Homo sapiens: one gene and its partners. The protein of the gene in region 3 interacts with the protein of the main gene of each other region in a biochemical or structural test. Each region holds a gene or a part of one and is shown on either strand. Other genes may lie near its edges.

Region 1 (7,998 bases), on a different chromosome or scaffold from region 3:
AGCAGGTTAAGTGTGGAATGAGCACCAGATTGAGGATCCCTCCAGTCTCTGGAGGTTGGACATGTGATCCTAGGCGAGTCACTCAGCTTCTCTGGACCTCAATTTCCCAGGGAACTTGTAAAACAAGGCTACTTCCCTCTGTTCTCCCCCTACCTCAAAGCATTCCTTGAAGTCAGTTACCCGTGCTAAGATAATAAGGCTGATATCCAAAGATGAGGCTATTGGCCAAAGGCTTCAGTCTCTTCTTTCACCAACTTTCTTTTTAGTTATCAGAGCCTCACACAAAAGTTATTAGCTAATCAGCTAATAACTATTCAGCACCTGCTATTTGTGTACCCATGCAGTAGTCAATGGGGGTATTTAGAAGTACAAGGCACCAGCCTTGCCCTTGAGGACCTGTCTCCAAGTCTGGGGACTGCTAAGATATATGAAATAAAAGCACTGAAAGATCTGGTGGGCCTATTATTCAGTGTCCAACTATGAGATACAAACCAGAGGTATTAGAATTCCGAAGAACATCAGCCAGGACTAGAAAAGCTGAGTTTCCAAGATAAAGTAGAATTTTAGAATAACCTTGATAGATAGATAACTTTTGCAAAATTGGAAGGGAAAGACATCCAGCAAAAGAAACTCTGGGAGCTAAGGATATGAGGCTAGATGGAGTAATGTATAGGATGGGTGATCATGAAAGAGATCAACAGAATTCTCAGTAGGTATATGAGTGAGCAGTGGAAATGGGAACAGGAGTTAGAGTTCAGAAGACTTGAACGCGTGGCATGGTAAGCTGGACTTGGAGCAGGAACAAAAGGTATGACCTGGGTGACCTGGTGAACATTGGAAGCTGCTCGGTTTGGATTTCTTGTCTACCATCTGCCTTCAGCAGAGGAAAAGTACAAGAACATGTGCAACCTGGTGTTCTAAAGCCATAGACATCAGCCATCCCAGCTGAGAGGCCCCAGGACAGGGGCAAGGACTCACTATATTTCTGAACACAGAACTGGGAACACAGTGCCCAAAACTGTTTGATCCGCTGCTGGTAGTCTCACACTGACCTCTCAACCCCAGTTACACCACAGGTCAAGCAAATAGGCATGGCCCAGAATCTCTAAACCTTCATCGCATCAACCCCATTCTCTGCCACCTACCAGATCAATGGGACACTGTTTTGGGGACCAAAGACACTGCTCACCTCTGCCCCACACTTAGGAAATAGGCCTTCATATTCTGCTGCTCAGCAGGCCTCACAGAGTTCAACACTAAACTCCTGTTGCAAAGAGCACCCAGAAAGAGAATGCACCAGCAGCACAGTCAGTCCCAGGCTCTTCCTGTGGGAGTCATCAAGAAACACAGTTCCCAGGGCCTCTACAGACAAAAGAATGACACCCAATCATCATGCTAGTTCTAATAGGGTCTAGAGATGTTTAATGGCATCACTGTGCCCCGTGAGACACAGAAGTCACAACAACTCATGAAAAGGAAAGTGTTCATTGAGATACTCTCTAGTGTTGACTTAGTTGAGCCTATTATTGTTAACCAGATGGTTACTGTCTGCATCAAACTGGCAATCTGGAGCAGCAGGCTTCCCCTCAGTGGTGCACTGCCATGGCCGGACCCCTCCCTGCAGTCTTCTCTCCTCAGATAAAATGGCAAGCCTCGTACTCTACCAACTGCAGACCAAAGAATGAAGAGGTTGGCACTCAAGAGATATTTTACTTCATAGACAGAGGAATGTCACCTCTGCACTGCGCTGAGCACCTTCACAATGAAAGATTCAGATCTTCAGATAACAATTTAAAAATTTAGATGTGTGTGCCTGCCAGGATCTAACTGCCTCGCTAGTTAGATCCAGCTCAACAAAAGTACTTAAAATCTTTTCTGCTGGTTCCTATTTCAAAAGAAATCCCTGATGGAGGAAGCACAGACCTTCCAGTATCACTCATAAACTTTTCAATACAAATATGAAACTCAGTTCAGAGCAAGTATCATCTGACTGGGTTTCTCTCCTTCATCCCTGAATGTGTGTGTATACAGGCATACACGGCGTGCACGCGCGCACACACACAGCCATCAGCATGGCATGCTTGCTGAAGATTCAAGCACTCCTGCGTGAAAATGCAAGTACACTATGTCAGGTCAGCCCCACTATGACATCAAAAACCCCCCACCAAAGAAAAAACACCCCGGGAAAGGAGCCAGGAAAGGGAAACGCCTCCTTGAAACAGCCTGAGAAAGGCAATCTGATTCAGCCTGTGCTGAAACTATTCCCGAACACCAGCCAGGAAGTCCCTTCTTTCAGGGTGCTCCGCTGCCTAGCAAACCCAGACCTGCCTTTGCGGAAGCCAGATCTCTGGAGATTCAAGCCCTGGAACGGGTGATTTGGAAAGCGGCTTTCCTGCTCTTGTTCTGGCGCCCTTTAAGATCCATCAGTGGCCAGGTCTTCCAACTCTGCCTAGCCAATGCAAACACAAAAGCTGGTGGCTGCACCGCAAGCACACATACACTTACATACACACACAACACAGCACACACTTATACATACATACCTTTCACCCTCCATTGTGTGAGGCCCAGCCAGGGTGGTAGCTGCTGAACTGTGTATGCACTCGGGGATCCTAGTTCTGTTCTTGATTCTCCCAGCAGACCAGTGGGAAATCTGATCAGCAACAGTGATTCAGCATGGCTGCAAGTGAAGCCTCCTCCCTTCTCAATCCTCCTTCCTCTGACTTACTCGCAGCAGCTTCTACCGCAAAAGCAGCAGCAACAGAAAATGTCTTACCCAGAGCTCCCTGCAGCCCTTTCAGCTGCTAAAAGCAGCAACCCACTTGCTCCCCCTCCCCCGCAGGCTTGCTGCTCCTTGGTCTCCTAGGAACGGCGGCAGCTCCAGCGACCCAGGTGCACTGCCACCTTTCCAGCTTCCTCTGCATCTGCCCAGGCATCCCCAGCCCAGGCGATTAGCCCGCCCCTGGGGCTCCTGCCTCCTCTGTCTAGGCTGCAAAGAATCAGGCAGTTCGTCACTAGCCCGAGAAATACTGGCCCCTACACCCTCCCCTGCTCCCATAGGCTATGAGTCTGTCAGCCTGGCCAGATTGCTGGAATGAGGAGGCCCCTCTGTGGCCTGCAGTGGAGTTTATCATCCACCTGGGGAAATTCACTTGTAGGTCACAGTTTATGTTCCAAATCCTCCTCCCAAATTCTGTAGTAGCTCTGAGTGTCTGATAGATGGGGAGAAGTTAAGGGAAAAGCACCTGACAGAAGTGAGAAAAACACAGAGAGAAATTAAGAGAATACAGAGAGAAATTGGAAAACTAGTCGAAAAAGAGAGGTAGTACAAATAGGTGAAACTGAAACAAACCCTATTTTACTGCAAGAGGCCAAAGACTACTGCAGTAAAGCTATCACAATGAATACTAAAATATCTTAGCACAATCCTAAAATATCTTCCTAAAATCTGTCATATTGGAATTTAACTTAAGCAGTGGCTCCAACTAGTAAGTCTCCCACTGAACCCCCATATCCAGCCAAAGATCTTTCACATCCTGTAATCTCCAGCTGCTGAGCTTCAATTTAGACTAATTTAACTCTCCCTGCCTGAAATGCCTTCTCCAATCCCAGTCCTTTAGTCTTTCTGGGAGTCCAGTCAAATCCCATGTCTTCATAAAACCTTCCCTAATCACACCAATGACAGTCAATCACCACCAAAATACACAAACTATACTTTCCTGTATCGTCATCTCACACCTAATATACAGTCTTGGCTAATTCATTATTTATAAATCTTCTTTCCCAAACTAAAACATAATCTTGTGGAAGGCATGAGGCCAGTCTGTATATCCTAGCCACAGAGGCTTAGAGGTAACTGGGACAATTAGCTGCAAAAAGTGGTGCAGAAGCTATCCTAATGCCTCAGAAAAAAATCAGCTATGAGCATCTCTCTTCTGGGACACCTCATGGCACCCCTGGGCTTTTCCGAATCCACACCAGCACTCACTGGGTGAGTGACTTTCCTGAGTAGTGTTCTCCACACTCTGGACCTCATGCTCAGCTACTCATTCACAATATAGGGTCAGACCAGACAATCTTTAGAGTCCCTTTCAGCTCCAAGATCACAGGATTCTAAAAATGTTTTAAATGGTCCGTTTTTCTTCTCAGAGTAATCCGTGTGATTGTTTAAGAAGAAATACTAGGCTCCAATGTGTTGTAGGGGGCTTCAAGGAGGATAACATGATGTAGGTGAAAGTACGAAGAGACGCTCAGTAAATCTATCATCCTTATCATTTTAACCTGTTAAATTTCTTCACTACTACAAAGCCCTAAAACCACAGAAGGAAGAGAGGAACACTGAGGTGACAGAAAGTAAAAGTAACTAAAACTTTATATAGCCTCCTGAACTCAAACTGGCTACAGGGTTATTCTCAAAGATTACCTCCCCTGGCACCTCAGTGTTCTCTTAGACAAGGCCATTACTCACACTCACTCTTTCTCAAGTGAGAAGAGGCCTGGATAATTTCATTTACACCCCACAGGGCTGTATCTTCACTTCTTCCTTGCACAACAATACCCCTCATATCTTGTTCCCTCTATGTCCCTTCCTCCTCTAATCAGCCTTGTGGCCCTGCTCCAGATATTTCCTCTTGAGGCCAATCACAGGGACCACAAAAAGCTGAACATCACAAATAAGGAAACTGAATCTCGGAATCCGTGCCAGAGTTCAGACATCCACCAGGAACACAACTGGGTGATTCATAAAAGGGACATAAGAAAGAGATGACTCCTCCTTTGCACATACCCACGTTTACATATTCGCCATACAGGAAGGTGTGGAAATGCCACATCTAACAAACCAGACAAAGAAAAAAGATCAGAAAAGGAAATATGTAAGGGTTGTATGTATTCAAGTTTCAAAATATAACTATTAAGAGCCAGTATAAAACCCTGCTAAATTTCCCTGCAAAACCATACGACTACACCTTCATACTTTATTCACCACTCATGATTCACAGGAGGTAGACAGAATAGAGAACACTCAGAAGAGGCCATTTAGAAAAGAAAGGTCATCTTAAGCAAAAAGAACAAAACTGGAGGCACCACATTAACTGACTTCAAACTATACTACAAGGCTACAGTAACCAAAACAGTATGGTATTGGTACAAAAACAGACACATAGACCAATGGAACAGAAAAGAGAACCCAGAAATAAAGCTGTTCACCTACAACCAACTGATTTTCGACAAAGTCAACAAAAATAAGCAATGGGGAAAGGACTTCAATAAATGATGCTGGGATAACTGGCTATCCATATGCAGAAGAAACTGGACCCTATCACCATATATAAAAATTAACTCAGGCACAGTGGCTCATACCTGTAATCCCAACACTTTGGGAGGCCAAGGCGGGCAGATCACCTGAGGTCAAGAGTTTGAGACCAGCCTGGCCAACCTGGTAAAACCCCATCTTTACTAAAAATACTACAATTAGCCAGGTGTGGTGGCATGTGCCTGTAGTCTCAGCTACTTGGGAGCCCGAGGCAGGAGGATCACTTGAACCTGGGAGGCAGAGGTTATAGTGAGCCAAGACTGCACCACTGCACTCCAGCCTGGGTGACAGAGCAAGACTCTGTCTCAAAAAATAAAATAAAATAAACCCAAGATGGAGTAAACAATTAAATGTAAGACCTAAAACTATTTAAAAAAGGAAAAAAACCTAGGAAATACCCTTCTAGCAATGCAGCAAAAGCAAAAATTGACAAGTAAGACCTAATTAAACTAAAGAGCTTCGTATAGCAAAAGAAACTATCAACAGAGTAAACAGACAATGTACGGAATAGGAGAAAATATTCATAAACTGCATCTGACAAAGGTCTAATATGCAGAATCTATAAGGAATTTAATTCAACAAGCAAAAAACATGTAAACCCATTTTTAAAAGTGGGCAATGGACATGAACAGACGTTTCTCAAAAGAAGACATACAAACAGCCAACAAACATGAAAAAATGCTCATCGTCACTACTCACCAGAGAAATGCAAATCAAAACCACAATGAGATACCATCTCACACCAGTCAAAATGACCATTATTAAAAAGTCTAAAAATAACAGATGTTGTCAAGGCTGTGGAGGAAAGGGAATGCTTATACACTGCTGGTGAATGTAAATTAGTTCAGCTACTATGGAAGGCAGTCTGGAGATTTCTCAAAGAACTAAAAATAGAACCACCATTCGACCCAGCAATCCCATTACTAGGTATATGCTCAAAAGAAAATAAACCATTCTGCCAAAAAGGCACATGCACTTGTATGTTCATCGCAGCACTATTCAAAATAGCAAAGACAAAAAATCAAGTTAGGTGCCCATCAATGGTGGACTGAATAAAGAATGTGTGGTATATATATACCAAGGAATACTACACAGTCATAAAAAAAGAATAAAATCATGTCCTCTGTGGCAACATGAAAGCAGCGAGAGGCCATTATCCTATGTGAATTAGTGCAGAAATAGAAAACCAAATGTCACACATTCTCAGTTATAAGTGGGAGCTAAACATTGGGTACATATGGACATGAAGATGGGAACAATAGATACTGGGGACTACTAGAGGATGGAGGGAGGGAAAAGGGGTTATATGATTTGGATGTTGGTAGCCTCCAAATCTCATGCTGGAATGTAATCCTCAGTGTTAGAGTTGGAGATAGGGCCTAGTGGGAGGTGCTTGGGTCATAGGGGCAGATCACTCATAATAGTTTCACACTGTCCCCATAATAAAGAGTTTTCACTCTGAGTTCACTCGAGATCTGGTTGTTTAAAAGTGTGTGGCACCTTCCTCCTCACTCTCTTGCCTCTGCTCTCATCACGTGATATACCAGCTCCCCCTTTGCCTTCCACCACAATTGTAAGCTTCCTGAGGCCTCCCCGGAAGCAGATGCCAGCACGCTTCCTGTACAGCCTGCAGAGCCATGAGGCAATTAAACCTCTTTTCTTTATAAATTACCAAGCCTCAGGTATTTCTTTATAACAACACAATAACCACCTAATACAAGGAGCAAGCCTAAAAAGGTAGTTGAAAAGCTACCTATTGGGTACCATGCTCATTACCTAGGTGACAGGATCATTCATACCCCAAACCTCAGCATCATGCAAGATACCCATGTAACAAACCTGTACATGTACCCCTCGATCTAAAATTAAAGATGAAATTTAGGAAAAAAAAAAAAAAGGAAGAAAGGTTATCTAGCAAAACCAGGGGCAGAGCTGAGTCAAGAAGCAAAGTCTCCAGACTCCTGGCACAAAGTTCCTACCCCCAATATTTTCCAGTTTCAGAAACACATTTTACATTTTCTACCTTATTATCCAAATGTTCTCTGGACCACAGTCTGAACCTGTTTGCTCTATGCTAATTTTCCTGACTGGACTTCAGATTAAGGACAGTTGCTATTGGAGTCCTGCAGTAGAGGAGAGTCAAAATAATCAATGTGGTATCTGTCTGGAGAAAAAGGTCCCATCCTCAGATTGCTCAGCAATAATAGTGTCTTAGTCCAGCAGGCCCCAACCTTTTTGGCACCAGGGACCAGTTTCATGGAAGGCAACTTTTCCAAGGATGGGGGTGGGGGGTCAGGGGGGATGATGGTTTCAGGATGAAACTGTTCCACCTCAGATCATCAGGCATTAGATAGCTTCTCAAGGAGCGCACAACCTAGATCCCTTGCACACACAGTTCACAATAGGGTTCATGCTCCTAGGAGAATCTAATGCCACTGCTGAGCTGACAGGAGACAGAGGTCAGGTGGTCATGCTCGCTTGCCGGCTGCTCACCTCCTGCTGTGCATCCCAATTCTTAACAGGCCATGGACCAGTACCAGTCTGTGACCTAGGGACCACTGTCTTAGCCCAGTCCTTCCCACACCCCAGCCTTCTTCTACAGCTTATCAAAAGTCCCTAGTGGCCCCAGATCTCTACCCCAAAGCAATGTATTCAGCCATCTACACCAACTTTGTTTAGAATCA
Region 2 (7,028 bases), on a different chromosome or scaffold from region 3:
CAGCCCAGGGCACTGGGGAGGCTAAATGAACACAATCCACCACATTTTAATATTCTCATCACTCAGGGGATATAGAAGCTGGTCTGGAGAAGCTGCCAGTGTATAAAAGGCAAGATGTTTTCACAAGGAAGAAGGGATGAGTACCAGTTTGAAAGTGACAGATCGATTTGACTGAGGTTCTTCCACAATTTTCTGCAAATTAGCTGCCACTGTAATCATACAAACAGAGAAGGTAATGAATGAGAAGTTACATAAATCCACTTTCAACCATATTTTAAAAGCTTAAATGGTAGTTAAGAATATGCTCCGTACAATCAAAATGGAAGCAGACAGATCAAATAATCACTCCCCTAATGAAAGTGTCTTTTAAACTCATTTCTGAGTAGTACACCTTGAACCACTGTCAAATTAACTTTCTTTAAAATGTTGTATTAACCTAGGAAAAACATGCAGGTAAAAGAGGTATGATTTCCTGATTTATGGATCAGAAAGCCCAAGGCCAGAAGTCAACAAACCAGCCTGTGGTCTGTTTTTGTTCTCCGGCAAGCTAAGAGTGGTTTAAAAGTGACAGACACTGTACATGGCCCGCAAGGCCTAAACTATTTATTATCTGGTTTTTCACGGAAAACTGTGTCTAAGGACATGGTCTTTTCCTTCAGTAACATGGACCTGTGGCCTCACTGGGCCTTCTCTCTTCCTTCCTGCTTTTCTAGTACTAAATCTCTAATGACTTTTGCTCAACTTGGGCCACAAAAATTAGGTATCCAAAACAGATCAGATATGGCCAAGCTTACTTTAACTTGTGACTTTTGCCATAATTTCTATTAATCTCCTAAAGACCTTGGGTGTGCTTTCACTTACCATCATTGGAGGTCACAAAGCAAACTCAGAGGTGAAATTTTGTGTGTGTGTAAGGAACTGTCCCATTACCTATAATTTCAGGAAAGCCAAGAACCATTTCAAGAACCATCAGACCTACTCAGTGGAATAAAAAACCTGCTTTTCTATGTACTAAGTATACAGACAGAGACACAGGAGCACATGAGCAGAACGCAATGGAGTTACCTATTACTAAATCCCTTCCGTCGACCAGGCCAGCAGAAATGAGTTCCTGAGAGACACCCTCTGCTGTATCTGCAAGGACAAAGAAGACAGTGCTCTGTTTTTTGTGCGTGCTTGCCACTGTTAACTCTCACAGCTCATGTGGGTGTCAGTGTGCCATGCTAGGCCCAAGCTGGATGCTAAATCCACAGAACCAAGAAGGCAGGCAGGGCCTTCCTTCCATACAAAGACTTTTCCTACCACTGAGATTATCTCAAGTGGAATTCTCACAGATCTAGCTAGAGGGCAGAATCTGTATAAACCAGGTAGCAAATATCTGAGACATGATGTTGAATACTGAACATCTCTAGGGCTAAAAAACCAGAATGATTTATTCTCAAAAACTAAGGCAACAATTTTTGTCTCAAAAAATTTTTGTCTCTTCTCTTTGGGAATCATACTCCAAGTTTTTTGCTAAAATCATTTACTTTTTTATTCTGGTGGGCTTTTCTTCTTATCTAGTTATTCCAGGTGGTACAATCTGAGCAATGGGTATAACCAGAAACTAAAAAGATGAGGACAGAATATCCCCAATTAACCTCATCTTCAACCAACTCAGTGGTATTGGTTGCCAAGGGCTTGAAAATGAGCCCCTCAGAGGGAACAGGAGGACTGCGGTGGAGACAGTGTCCACACATTCACACAGGCAACCAGCAATTTGAATTAATTCCTGAAAATGTGATGTTGCCTGGTGTTTAAAAAGTAAAACAGGTGACACCTCTGTACACCTGCATCTTTTCTCTTTAGTGGTTAGTTGCTCATGATAGTGAGACAGCAAGAAGAATAAGCATGATACACAGAACAGATACTTGCTGGCTACTCCCCAAATTAGAACACTGAGTAATAAAGGCAAGAAACAAAACACACCTTGTTCAAGGTGAAGTTCAACAGCCAGAAACAGTACATGACAGACCTCAGCTTCTGTCTGAGGAGAGAGGAGACTGCAGACCTTGTTTCTTTACCATCATGGAGAACAACCATGTATAAAGAATGAACTTTGGATTCTGACAGATCTGGTTTGAATTCCAGCTATACCTCTTTCCAGCTGTGTGACCTTGAACAAGTTACTTTGCCTTTAAGTCTTGATTTCATCATCGATACTATGGGGATAATAATTTTTCCTTAGTAGACTGCTGTGAGAATTTAATAAGATAACGCTTAAGACAATGCCTGGCCTATAGTAAGCTGTAAAGAGCTATCATATATTTATTACTGTTTGTATTATTATACAAGGTTTTCTAAATGTGTTTAGTAGTCAACGAACTGCATTTTTATCTCACTCATATACTCGCCAAAACCAGGAAAATTTTTATTATCCTTTAAAAGCAAAACTTCACAAAGGACAGAAACTTCACAACACATTTCATTGAATCACAAATTGGAAGCTATTTTGTTTTCAATCCATTTGATGCCTCACCTCTCCCAGGAGTAAATTCAAATCGAATATCATTTAGTTCTTTTTTGGAATTCCTATGAAAGAAAGCAGAATGCATAAAATAAGAATTTCTAAATTTATGCAAAGAGATTCTGCCAACATATATTAAGAAAGCTGTGCCTCAAGAAAGTCTGTTTTGTTCCCATAGATCATATGATGTATTCAGATATGTTCACACTGCAGAGCTCAGAGCAAAACCAATTCGGAATGACCATCTAATTGTCCTACAACCCTTTGAATCTATGTCCCTTACTGATCAATATAAAAATTTCATGCCTTTGAGTAGATTCTTATATGCCCACTCCCATCCTTATTCCCACACCAAGAACATATAAAACTAAGAGGAAAATTGTATGAGCACAGGGAGGTGTGATTAAAATGATACAGGATGCCTTTTTCATCCTTATCCCCACTCCTACATGCCCACAATTCATTGCCTACCTCTGGTGATCAGTCTTGGCAGACTCATAAAATGAAATACATGATACTCCCTCAAATTCCATAGGAATTCAAAGAATATATGAGAGATGGGGATAATAAGGAAAAATTTTAGAGGTAGTTTTTATATAGGACTTAACAGATATGCAGGATTTAGGTAGGCAGAGAGGATAGGGAAAGGAATTGGGTCCATACTGGTAGCAGAGTTACTATATGACTCCAGAAATTCAAACCTGACTGGTGAGGTACAGTTACAGTGATGATCACACCATGCACTGAGATTAAGCAGGATCCCTGGAGGTTTTGTTTAAAGACAGAGAAATGAGAACACTATATCTAAGGGCAGATATGCCTGCTCACTTAGGACTCAAATCTATTTTATATAAATAATGGAGAGGGTTTACTTCTATTTGATGAATAATATACTTGAGGATGTTACTGAAATTGTGCTTAAAATAGAACTACCCATCTCAAATATAACATGCCCCAAATGATTTTCCCTTGCATTGCGTTCTTTCTACACAGGTACATACAAACTTATACTTCTGCATGTATATACTACCTGAAATTTGCTTTTAGCTGTGTAAGTACATAGTTCAAATCAACTTCCAACCTAGACTTGATTATTAAGGGAGTCATTTAATTTTCTCTTTTCTCAGTATCCACCTTTCCACAGTACCGAAGAGTGCTATACATAGTCTGTGCTTAATACATTTCACAATAATTTTCTTAAAGTGTTATTCTTTATGTAGATTTAAAACAGCATGAAGTTGTCAAGACATCCTAGTAACTCAGAATTTTTGAGATGAGACCAGGTATACTAAGTAGGCTTCTGTAAAGGAAAGGTAACCAAATATGTTTTTCACATTTATGGCATAAATGCATTGCTCCTAGTGGCAAGGAGCAATGAGATTCTCCTTACCACATTCTCTTAAATAGCTCTTGCTGCCTCTATCTCCAATTAGGACCTTACAGAAAGATGACTAGGAATTTATATGTGCAAGGGGAATGAGTTAATGGTAATTCAGTGGAACTCTTTTTTAAAATGTTAGTAATAGTTTTAAAAGGCCTGAGTTGCCTCAAGTGATACTTTAATACTAATTTTTTTTCAAATGCATTTATGAGTAGAAAGAGACCTAACTAGAGCAATACAACAGCCATAGTGATTCTGACAAGAAAGCTCTGGAATTTGAATCCAGCTACTAGTGCTAGGGGCGGGGGGGGCGGGGCAGGGAGTTAAAATGAACAGACTGCTACCTATGGCACTTCCTGCTGAGCAATCTGTCAGGACCTCTCTATATGTTCCCACCAAGAACCACCAATTTAGGGTACTTGCTGCAAAACAGAAACAGACTACAAAAACATTTAGAAGTTTCCTTTTAACCTTCTAAAAACAAGGCCTTTATTTGATCTACCACAATCAAAAAGTGCTCCCCTCTTGGGTTAGTTGATCTCAGAGTTTACCTCGTCACAATTATAAGACTGATCTTCAGATAAGCCAGTTAGTGCTGCTCCCCTAAAAACTGTTCCTCAATTACAGGCTACACCTCCTAACCCAAACTAGCTACACTGTAAATACACAAACTCATCACCAATTAGCACAGAAACAACTGAGAGAACATGTGCATCAGTTAGTCACAACACCTGCTAACATGCAGGTCCTCACACTGTTGCTATTATTTCTGGGGAAAAATAATACACCACCAAGCAAACAGAGCTTGATGCTGGAGGACATACAATCCTATCCAGTTACTCTCAGGCACAGACTATTACAGCACATGCAGAATATTCAGAAAACAAAAGAAAACAAAACAAAAAATGTCTACTTACCTTAATCTTAGTACTAGACTGATTGGGATCTTGGTTTCTTGTGAACCTGATCCTGAAGACAAAGCCTAAAAAGCATTGAAAGGTATACAGTCATTGCCTGAAACATTAAGTGGGGAGGTGACTAATGGTCACTGGCAGAGGAATCATTTACTTGGCAGCAATTTTCTTCATCTCCAGCTGAGGTCATACTAATCCCCAGGACATTCCCTGCTGGAGGAGGACATGCACTCCAAGGCAGCAACAAAAGCTGAATGTCAGTTTAAGTCCAACACAATGAGAAAGAAAACTCTCAAGCCCAGATGAAATTTCACATATAGCCACATTTACATTTTATATTTCTGAGACCCCTGTTCCCCTCTACAAGACTGAAAAACACAAAGCTAGGTTTCTCATTTTTAAAAAATCTGCCAGTGCACCATATGGCAGTACAAAAGGTAGACCCTGAACCAGCTGCCCTTCAGAAATCCATCCAACCCATACATAGGTTCCAGTCTTTTTATGGCTAAACTAATCCTCTCTGAAAATTGTACAGCGCTTGCTTATGGGAGGACATGCATTCGATTTAAGTTGTTTATAAAATGAATCTAATTTTTCCATCAATTTTCCTAAGACAACTGTATCTTTTCCCATATGCCAAGCAGAAATGGAAAGCTTGAGGGATGCAAAGTTAAATGAAGTAAGTGCCATGACTAATTGGAAATGCTCAAAGCAGTGATCTCCAAAGGCAGAACACGAGATGATCTACTGGGGTGCAAAAGAAAAAAAAAAAAATCAGACCTTTAATTTATATTTCTTTTCATCTAAAACGTTAGACAAGAAAATGGAACTTCTAATATTTAATAAATGGACGTTGAAAGTCTTACTTTAACCATGTACCATAGGGCCACATGTTGTATGCAGTGTCTGAGGTTTATTGAAGGGAGAGAAGGAGTTACACAGCATGTAGCAGCCCACTACGGGGCCTTCATTCACTTGGCTGCTCTCAATGAAGTATGATTTAATAAAGTTTGTGTGCACCTGGATAAATGATTTACAGATTATAATACCCGGACTTAACAAACCAACCCTCACAAAATTGACAAATAACTTAAAAAGAGTAATAGAGAAAAACCACAGAAAACAAAGAGTATTAATAAAAAGTATAAGCCTGAGTGAACAACAACAACAAAAACAGTACAGCCATCGATTCTCCTAGTCTCTGTTGAACTTCATGAGCTGCATTCTGAAGTTAAATGTAATTATCTAATACAAAGCTGACAAGAAATTAGCCCAAAATTTTTGATGTTTGAAATATTTCCATCATTAACTTATTCTGTTGCTTAAAAACCTGCATGTGATCCTTGTAAAATTCTCTTACCTGTACATGCTTAAAAATGTGAAGACAGAATTTCTAACTTGTTTCAAAATCTACCAAGACATTAACCTGATTACATTAGGTTATATTCCACGTTAATATCTGCTCTTTTCATCTATCCAAAGGAGTGACCATGAAACCATATCCCCGGCTTTACCTGAGCTGTTTTTGCTGGCTCTGCGGTGGGTGGGAGAGAGACTTGAGTTGGCTGTGTAGCAATCTGCCCAGCTGGCTGAGGTAGATGAGCAGAGATCTGTTCTGGAACTTGGAGCAAAGTACCCACAGGATCAGTTGTTGGAAAGAGCTGTAACAAAAACACACACAGTGTTGCTTAAGTTGTGTGGAAAGGGAGGCAGGTCTGCTGACAGCAAGTTCAGCCTTTCAGGGTGATATTTTCAAAGTAGTTTTTGGGTAGTGTACAGGTTTTGTGTCTACTCCGAATATATCTATTCCAAACGGAAGTCAAATATTTCTAGGCTTTTAAACTTTTAACAACTCTGTGAGGTATAATTTATATTTCTCTACATTTACCCACTGTAACTGTACAATTTGGCGATTTTTGTACCATATATAGAATTGTGCAACCATCACCACAATCGTTTTAGAACACTTCCATCACCCCCAAAAAGTCCTCTCATGCCTATAGTTAGTTCCTGCTTCCACACCCAGCCATAGGCAACAACTGATCCTAATTTCTATAAATTTGCTTTTCTGGATATTTCATATAAATGGAATCATATAATATATAGTCTTTTGTGTCTGTCTTCAGTTTGCATTATATTTATCTTTAACAAAATCTATTCCATTCCTTTGCCCAGCAAAACAGCACCTCCAAAATACAGATTTAAGTATGTAATACAAAATTACAGA
Region 3 (7,028 bases):
AGGTAGTGTGAAATTAAAACTACTCATTAATTTTATAGTATTTTAGAATTGAAAAGGTGACAGATCTTTAAAAAAAAAAAACCTCGTCAAACGAAAACTGTTCATTTTGGTCAGTCATATTCAAAAAACTTAGTCTGGGCCAGGCACGGTGGCTCACGCCTGTAATCCCAGCACTTTGGGAGGCCAAGGCGGGTGGATCACGGGGTTAGGAGTTCGAGACCAGCCTGACCAACATGGGGAAACCCCGACTCTACTAAAAATACAAAAATTAGCCGGGTATGGTGGCGCGCGCCTGTAATTCCAACTACTCGGGAGGCTGAGGCAGGAGAATATCTTGAACCCAGCAGGTGGAGGTTGCAGTGAGCGGAGATCGCACCATCGCACTGCAGCGTGGTGACAGAGCGAGACTCCGTCTCAAAAACAAACAAAAACAACAACAACAAAAAAACTTATGTCCGATTCCTTTTGGTTTACAGGCAGAAATTTACAGGTAGACACATTTCTTTCTTGTACTATCGATGCTTATTGATACTGATGCTGGAATTTTATTCTTCCATTATAGTTTTATATTTGAATAGGTGCTTTTTAACAATTTTGTTTTCCTTAACCGGTTACCTTACTTTTTTAAGACTGGACCCAATTACTTGTTGAGCACTTTATGAATTAATTTTGTTAGTTTTAATTATTTCACTTCTGAGACTTCTTAGCATGTGATGTGTGTTTTCCTTTTATCACCTGGAATTTTCTGATACTTTATTATCTTGGAACTGATAATACAGTGAAAAAAACTTAATTTGTCTAATGTCACGATAAAAACTTTGTCCAAGCTTCTCAGGTTTTCTTAGAACTCGTAACTTTTTGGATTTTTAATTCTCTATCTAGGCATGGGCATTACCAAACTAAAGAAAATCTTACATCGCATATTATTTTTGAGTCATTTCAGGATTTGGCTGCAGAACTAGATGAATCCTAGCTTATTAAGTGGTACCTGGTTTAGAAACTTCCATGTTATTTGTCTGTGCTTCTGTAATTTTTTGTTTTGATTTTGAAAAGATTATCTTACCTGAAAAATCCTTTATAGCAGTAGTTAGGCAGTATTTTTGGTTTTTTGACCAGGACACTTGCACTACATGCCTAATAAAATATTCAGTGGGTCAGTGTTTGAACTTTTATCTTTGGAGCCAAATTAAAGGACAAGCCAAGGGATTACTAAAGCACTGGAAAGATAGAAACTTTTTCGCTAAATCTATCCTTTTAATATACATATATTTCTGAAGCAAGACAGGAGAATATTGAGTTAAGTTGTTGAGTTAAAAATCTTAGTGTATTGAAACTGGGAGAAATCTTAGGTTATTCTGCCCAGCTATTTATTTGACAAATAAGGAACCTGAAATCATAGAGCAGGTAAATAACTTGATTAGGTAGATGAAGAACAAAAGCTAGTTAGGATCTAATAATTTGGGAGATGACAAAGCATTTGTAGTCCAGTAGATGGCTAATAAGTCATTTCAAATGAAGCAATATTGTGTTGGTGTGGAAGTGGCTGTTGGATTTCTGGAGAAACCCGGTCCTTATACCCATGGCAAATTTCAGGCTTCTGTTTTGGGTGTTGATTTTTATCACTTCAAATTGAGATATAAATAGGCTTTTGTGGATGGGTCAATATGGTATACAAATCAAGCTATTTTCTGTCATGCTAATTTTTTTAGAGTCATGCTATGCATTGCTCTTTAGTAAAACAAGCATCAATTCTTTTTTTTTTTTTTTTTTTTTTTTAAAAAAAAAAAGAGACGGAGTCTTGCTCTATCTCCAGGCTAGAGTGCAGTGGCGCAATCTGAGCTCACTGCAACCTCCGCCTCCTGGGTTCAAGCGATTCTCCTGCCTCAGCCTCCCAAGTAGCTGGGAGTACAGGCGCACCCCACCACACCCAGCTAATTACAAGCATCAATTCTTAGTAAATAATGCCTAGGTAATATTTTGATACCACAGGACCTTCAGTAATTACCGAGATGTTTAAGATGCAGATTTCTTTAACTGGTTTTATTAGACAAGTAGTGCACCTTAATTTTAATATTTGGTTGTCTTGGTCAGAAAATATTACTGTTGGGCTCTATCTGCAGAGTTTACATTGCTTTTCTAGAAAGGGATCTGGTTTTTCAAAAAAGATAGCATAATTTCCTTTAAGAAAACATTGATGGAGCCGGGTGCGGTGGCTCACGCCTGTAATCCCAGCACTTTGGGAGGCCGAGGCGGGTGGATCACGCGGTCAGGAGTTCGAGAACAGCCTGGCCAACATGGCGAAACCCCATCTCTACTAAAAATACAAAAATTAGCTGGGCGTGGTCCGCACGCCTGTAATCCCAGCTACTCGAGAGGCTGAGGCAGGAGAATTGTTTGAACCCGGGAGGCAGAGGTTGCAGTGAGTCGAGATCGCACCACTGCACTCCAGCCTGGGTGACAGGGTGAGACTCTGTCTCTAAAAAAAAAAAAAAAAAAAGAAAGAAAGAAAAAGAAAACATTGATGCACAGATTTAAGAATGATTTATTTTAAGCACCTTCCCAAGTTGCCTCTGAAGAGTTCACATGATGCGTTATATGTTGATGAGATTGTTTCCACATCTACCTGAAAAGAGAGGTTAAATCATATTTTTGTTGAAGCTCCAATATACTTAACTGCTTATTTTTCTCTGTCTTTTATTAAGACTGTGTGTCATGAGTACATGACATTAATATTTTGTGAATAGTATAGCAGTGTTACAGAAATGGGATGTGGTTCTGTGATTAAGAAACCATCATTTATTTCTTTGCTATAGTTCTTTTTTTTTTTTTTTTTTTTTTTTTGAGACGGAGTCTCGCTCTGTCGCCCAGGCCGGACTGCGGACTGCAGTGGCGCAATCTCGGCTCACTGCAAGCTCCACTTCCTGGGTTCACGCCATTCTCCTGCCTCAGCCTCCCGAGTAGCTGGGACTACAGGCGCCCGCCACCGTGCCCGGCTAATTTTTTGTATTTTTAGTAGAGACGGGGTTTCACCTTGTTAGCCAGGATGGTCTGCTATAGTTCTTAAAATATCTAATTGAACTGAATCTCTCTATTTGAATGTTGGTGATTTTTTCCCTCTTATCTTTTAAATTTGTGCCACATTCCTTATTTTTTAGGATGAGAATCAGCGTAACTTTCCGTCTCAGGGAATAGTTTTTGGAGTTTGTTCTTAAATCCTCAAAGTCACCGATTAGGAGTATTGGCAAATTTTTTTCTCTTACCTTTTTTCTGACCCGTAGTAACACAGTCTGAGAAGTAATCTAAAAACCTGGAAAGAGGTTGTTTTTGTGTAAAACAAACCAGGAATCTATTGTTGCTTTGTGACAATTCATTTCTTGACATTCAAATTCTGATGCAAGAGCCTAGTCATTTAAAATTTATCTTATTCCACCAGCAGCTTATCAAAGAATTTCAAAAAATAAAAAATATATGTATATAAATATAAATAAAATTCATCTTAGTTCATCCCTATGGAAACATTCAACTAAAACTGGGCTCTCATTTTCAGAAATCATCCTAAACCTGTTATTTGGGTTTTCTGGTAGTTTTTACATTTTTTTAGATAAAGCTGTAAAAGCAGCAAGAGTAGCTGTACTCAATTATCATTTCTGAAAATATTTAGCATACTATGAAATAATTCATAATTACCGTTAGTACACCTTTGCTATACCAGTTCTTTAAATTATATTGATAATTTAAATTATATATTTAGTAACTTGCATTTTGTTTGAGTTTTTTGTTTTTTTGTTTTTGAGACAGAGTCTCACTCTGTCGCCCAGGCTGGAGTACAGTGGCGCGATCTCGGCTCACTGCAACCTCCACCTCCCGGGTTCCAGCAATGCTCCTGCCTCAGCCCCCTGAGTAGCTGGGATTACAGGCGAGCGCCACCACGCCCGGCTAATTTTTGTATTTTTAGTAGAGATGGGGTTTCACCATGTTGGCCAGGCTGGTCTTGAACACCTGACCTCGTGATCTGCCCGCCTTGGCCTCCCAAAGTCCTGGGATTACAGGCTTGAGCCACCATGCTCAGCCGTTTTGTTTTGTTTTAAAACCTGGTCTGCAGGAATAGGTGAGACTTAGCATGACCTCAGTTTATGTTTGAAGAGGCCATTTTTCTGCCTTGTAACATAGTAGTTAAGAACTAGATTGCCTGGGCTCAAATCAAGGCTCAGCTACATAATTGTGTCACCTTGAGCAAGTTTTGTGCTACAGTTTCCTGTCTGTAAAATGGGTGTAAAAAAGAGTACCCATTTTATAGAGTTGTGCTGATTAAATGAATGAACATATATAAAACATGTAGGATAGGGCCTGCCACATAAATATTAACTGTGATGATGCAGCATCTTTTTTAGGTTGTCCTTTTGAGGGAATCTGTGAAGATTTTGTTTGTTTATATTTATGCTTGAAAAATCATATAGCAAAACTTAACTACTGTTCTTGGAGGAGGAGGAAAGCAGGTATTGATCTTTATGTTACTGGTGCTTTTAAATTCCTTAGCTCTACCTGGCCTTTGCCTAACATTTTAATTTTGTGACCCATCACCCAAATGCCAATCTTTCTGAACTGCTTATTTTCAGAATCTGCTAAGATCCTTGTCTCATCTTTGCATGTATCTAGAAAGCATATTTTCTTTTGGTGGATCTCATATATAATTCTTATAGTATTTATTTATCATATTGAAATTGTTTATATATTTTGTCTAATCCATTAGTCTTTGGAAAGTTCACTATGGTGTAATAGAATACTATACAATGAAAAGGAGCACCAAGGCAGAACCCTTGAGTTCTAGATTACCCAATTTTCTGAGCTTTGAGTAAGGAACTTAATCTATAATGCTCATTTATTAGCAATATGTCTTACTGATTTAGGATTGTTGAAGATCCACTGAAATACTATGTGAATGTACTTTGAAAAATGTTAAGTGTTATATAAAATATAACAGAATACTTAAATATTCATTTAGAAGGCTATAAATTGTCACCTATTACAAATGGAATATATTAAACTTAGTTGGATTTTAGGAGCTTTTTGCTTTGTCAACTTAATTTCTCAAATCTTAACAGGGGAGCTTTTCAGTTTGAAGAAACATTGTCAGAAGCTCTTAATATTTTATTTGGAAGATGATTATGCCTTTGACAGGTAGCAGGCTTAATTTTATATGTAGTTTTTTTTTTATTGTTGTTGTTTTTGATGGGGTCTTGCTCTGTCGCCCAGGCTGGAGTGCAGTGGCGTGATCTTGGGATCTTGGCTCACTGAAACCTCCACCTCCTGTGTTCAAGCGATTCTCCTGCCTCAGCCTCCAGAGTAGCTGGGATTACAGGCACCCACAACCACACCCGGCTAATTTTTTTTTTTTTTTTGTATTTTTAATAGAGACAGAGTTTCACCGTGTTGGACAGGCTGGTCTCAAACTCCTGACCTCAGGTGATCCACCTGCCTTGGCCTCTTAAAGTGCTGGGATTACAGGCATGAGCCGCCGTTCCTGGTCTATATGTAGTTTTTAAAAGATTGGTTATTTGTGATTTTTACATAAGAGGAAAAGCATCAGTAAGCTGTGGTTTTGTGGCCAACTTAATTGATCATATAATATCTCCACCTTCACTTACATTAATTTAGATTTTTCAGGTGGGGTTTCATAAATAATTTACTTTTTAGTGTTGTGACTTGAATCTTGGCTTTGCCAAATTACCATATTAAATACATTATGCTAAATGAATATGTTGGAATGATTTTTTAGAAGAGTCCTCAGATAAGCTGTTAGTCATAACAAGCAAATAATTTTCTCAGGAATGTAAGAATTCTTAAGAATTTTAACAGTTTGAATTTAAGAGTGTTTGGAAATTTGCTTGTTGTAATCATCATACTCAGGTTAGTTAAGAAAAACCACAGTCATTCCTGCAGATACCTTTTGTGCAGCTGAGGTTCAGCTTCTCAGAGACAATATTATTTTTGTCAGTAGATACGTGGTAGATGGTCTAGTTAACCAAACACACACTAATGTATAAACCAAACAGTGAGAGATGAAATTAATTAGTGAATCAAATGATTAATGTGCACATTCTCTGTTACTAGATAGAGATTAACAGATTTCTTGGGATAAGATCATTTTCATGGCTAAGAGTTTTGAGCTACATAACCTGATATATCTATCTTTATGTGGATCATCTCCTTCCATGGACTGGTAGATTATTGTGGATTAAGGTAAATCGGGAAATGCAACAGATTTATCTCTTTAACATGCTAAAGAGTTACTAGATATCATTGTCATATTAAAATGTTCTTTGAACTCTCCATATTGCCCCTCTCACACACAGTCATCCGTCAGTATACACAGGAGATTGGTTCCAGACAGCCCCCACCCCAGGGTACCAAAATTCACAAATGCACAAGTCTCTTAAATAAAATGGTGTATTTTCATATAACCTACAGTAGTACATCCTCCTGTATAGTTTATTTTTTAATTTAATTTTTTTTTTTTTTTGAGGCTGAGTCTTGCTCTGTTGCCCAGGCTGGAGTACAGTGGCACAATCTCAGCTCACTGCTACCTCTGCCTCCTGGGTTCAAGCGATTGTCATGCCTCAGCCTCCCGAGTAGCTGGGATTACAGGCACATGCTACCATGCCCAACTAATTTTTGTATTTTTAGTAGAGATGGGGTTTCATCACGTTGGCCAGGCTGGTCTCGAACTCCTGACCTCAAGTGATCCATCTGCCTCTGCCTCCCAAAACGCTGGGATTACAGGTGTGGCTCCTCACGTATAGTTTAAGTCATCACTAAATTACTTATAATACCTAATACAATGTAAGTGCTATGTAAATAGTTTTTATACTGTAGTGTTTTAAAATTCATGTTGTTTTTTATTATTGTGTTTTGTTATTGTTTTTTCCCCCAATATTTTCATCTGCAGTTAGTTGAATCCATGGATGCAGAACATGTGGATATGGAACCTGAGGATGTGGAGGGCGGACTGTTCTTATGTGTAGAAAGTA

The links.
Region 1: of the proteins of WNK1 (region 3) and KLHL3, one has a biochemical effect on the other in vitro, tested with the Homo sapiens proteins (2 studies listed by BioGRID).
Region 2: of the proteins of WNK1 (region 3) and OXSR1, one has a biochemical effect on the other in vitro, tested with the Homo sapiens proteins (2 studies listed by BioGRID and IntAct, with this or other methods).

The regions. Positions count from the first base shown.
Region 1 is NC_000005.10:137,733,090-137,741,087, forward strand, and holds the start of KLHL3 (kelch-like protein 3), read right to left. Parts: upstream 3,001-7,998; 5' UTR 2,558-3,000; coding exon 2,544-2,557; intron 1-2,543. UniProt on the Homo sapiens protein: Substrate-specific adapter of a BCR (BTB-CUL3-RBX1) E3 ubiquitin ligase complex that acts as a regulator of ion transport in the distal nephron.
Region 2 is NC_000003.12:38,245,509-38,252,536, reverse strand, and holds part of OXSR1 (serine/threonine-protein kinase OSR1), read right to left. Parts: intron 6,463-7,028; coding exon 6,316-6,462; intron 4,870-6,315; coding exon 4,805-4,869; intron 2,572-4,804; coding exon 2,519-2,571; intron 1,135-2,518; coding exon 1,066-1,134; intron 210-1,065; coding exon 145-209; intron 1-144. UniProt on the Homo sapiens protein: Effector serine/threonine-protein kinase component of the WNK-SPAK/OSR1 kinase cascade, which is involved in various processes, such as ion transport, response to hypertonic stress and blood pressure.
Region 3 is NC_000012.12:755,558-762,585, forward strand, and holds part of WNK1 (serine/threonine-protein kinase WNK1), read left to right. Parts: intron 1-7,028. UniProt on the Homo sapiens protein: Serine/threonine-protein kinase component of the WNK1-SPAK/OSR1 kinase cascade, which acts as a key regulator of blood pressure and regulatory volume increase by promoting ion influx.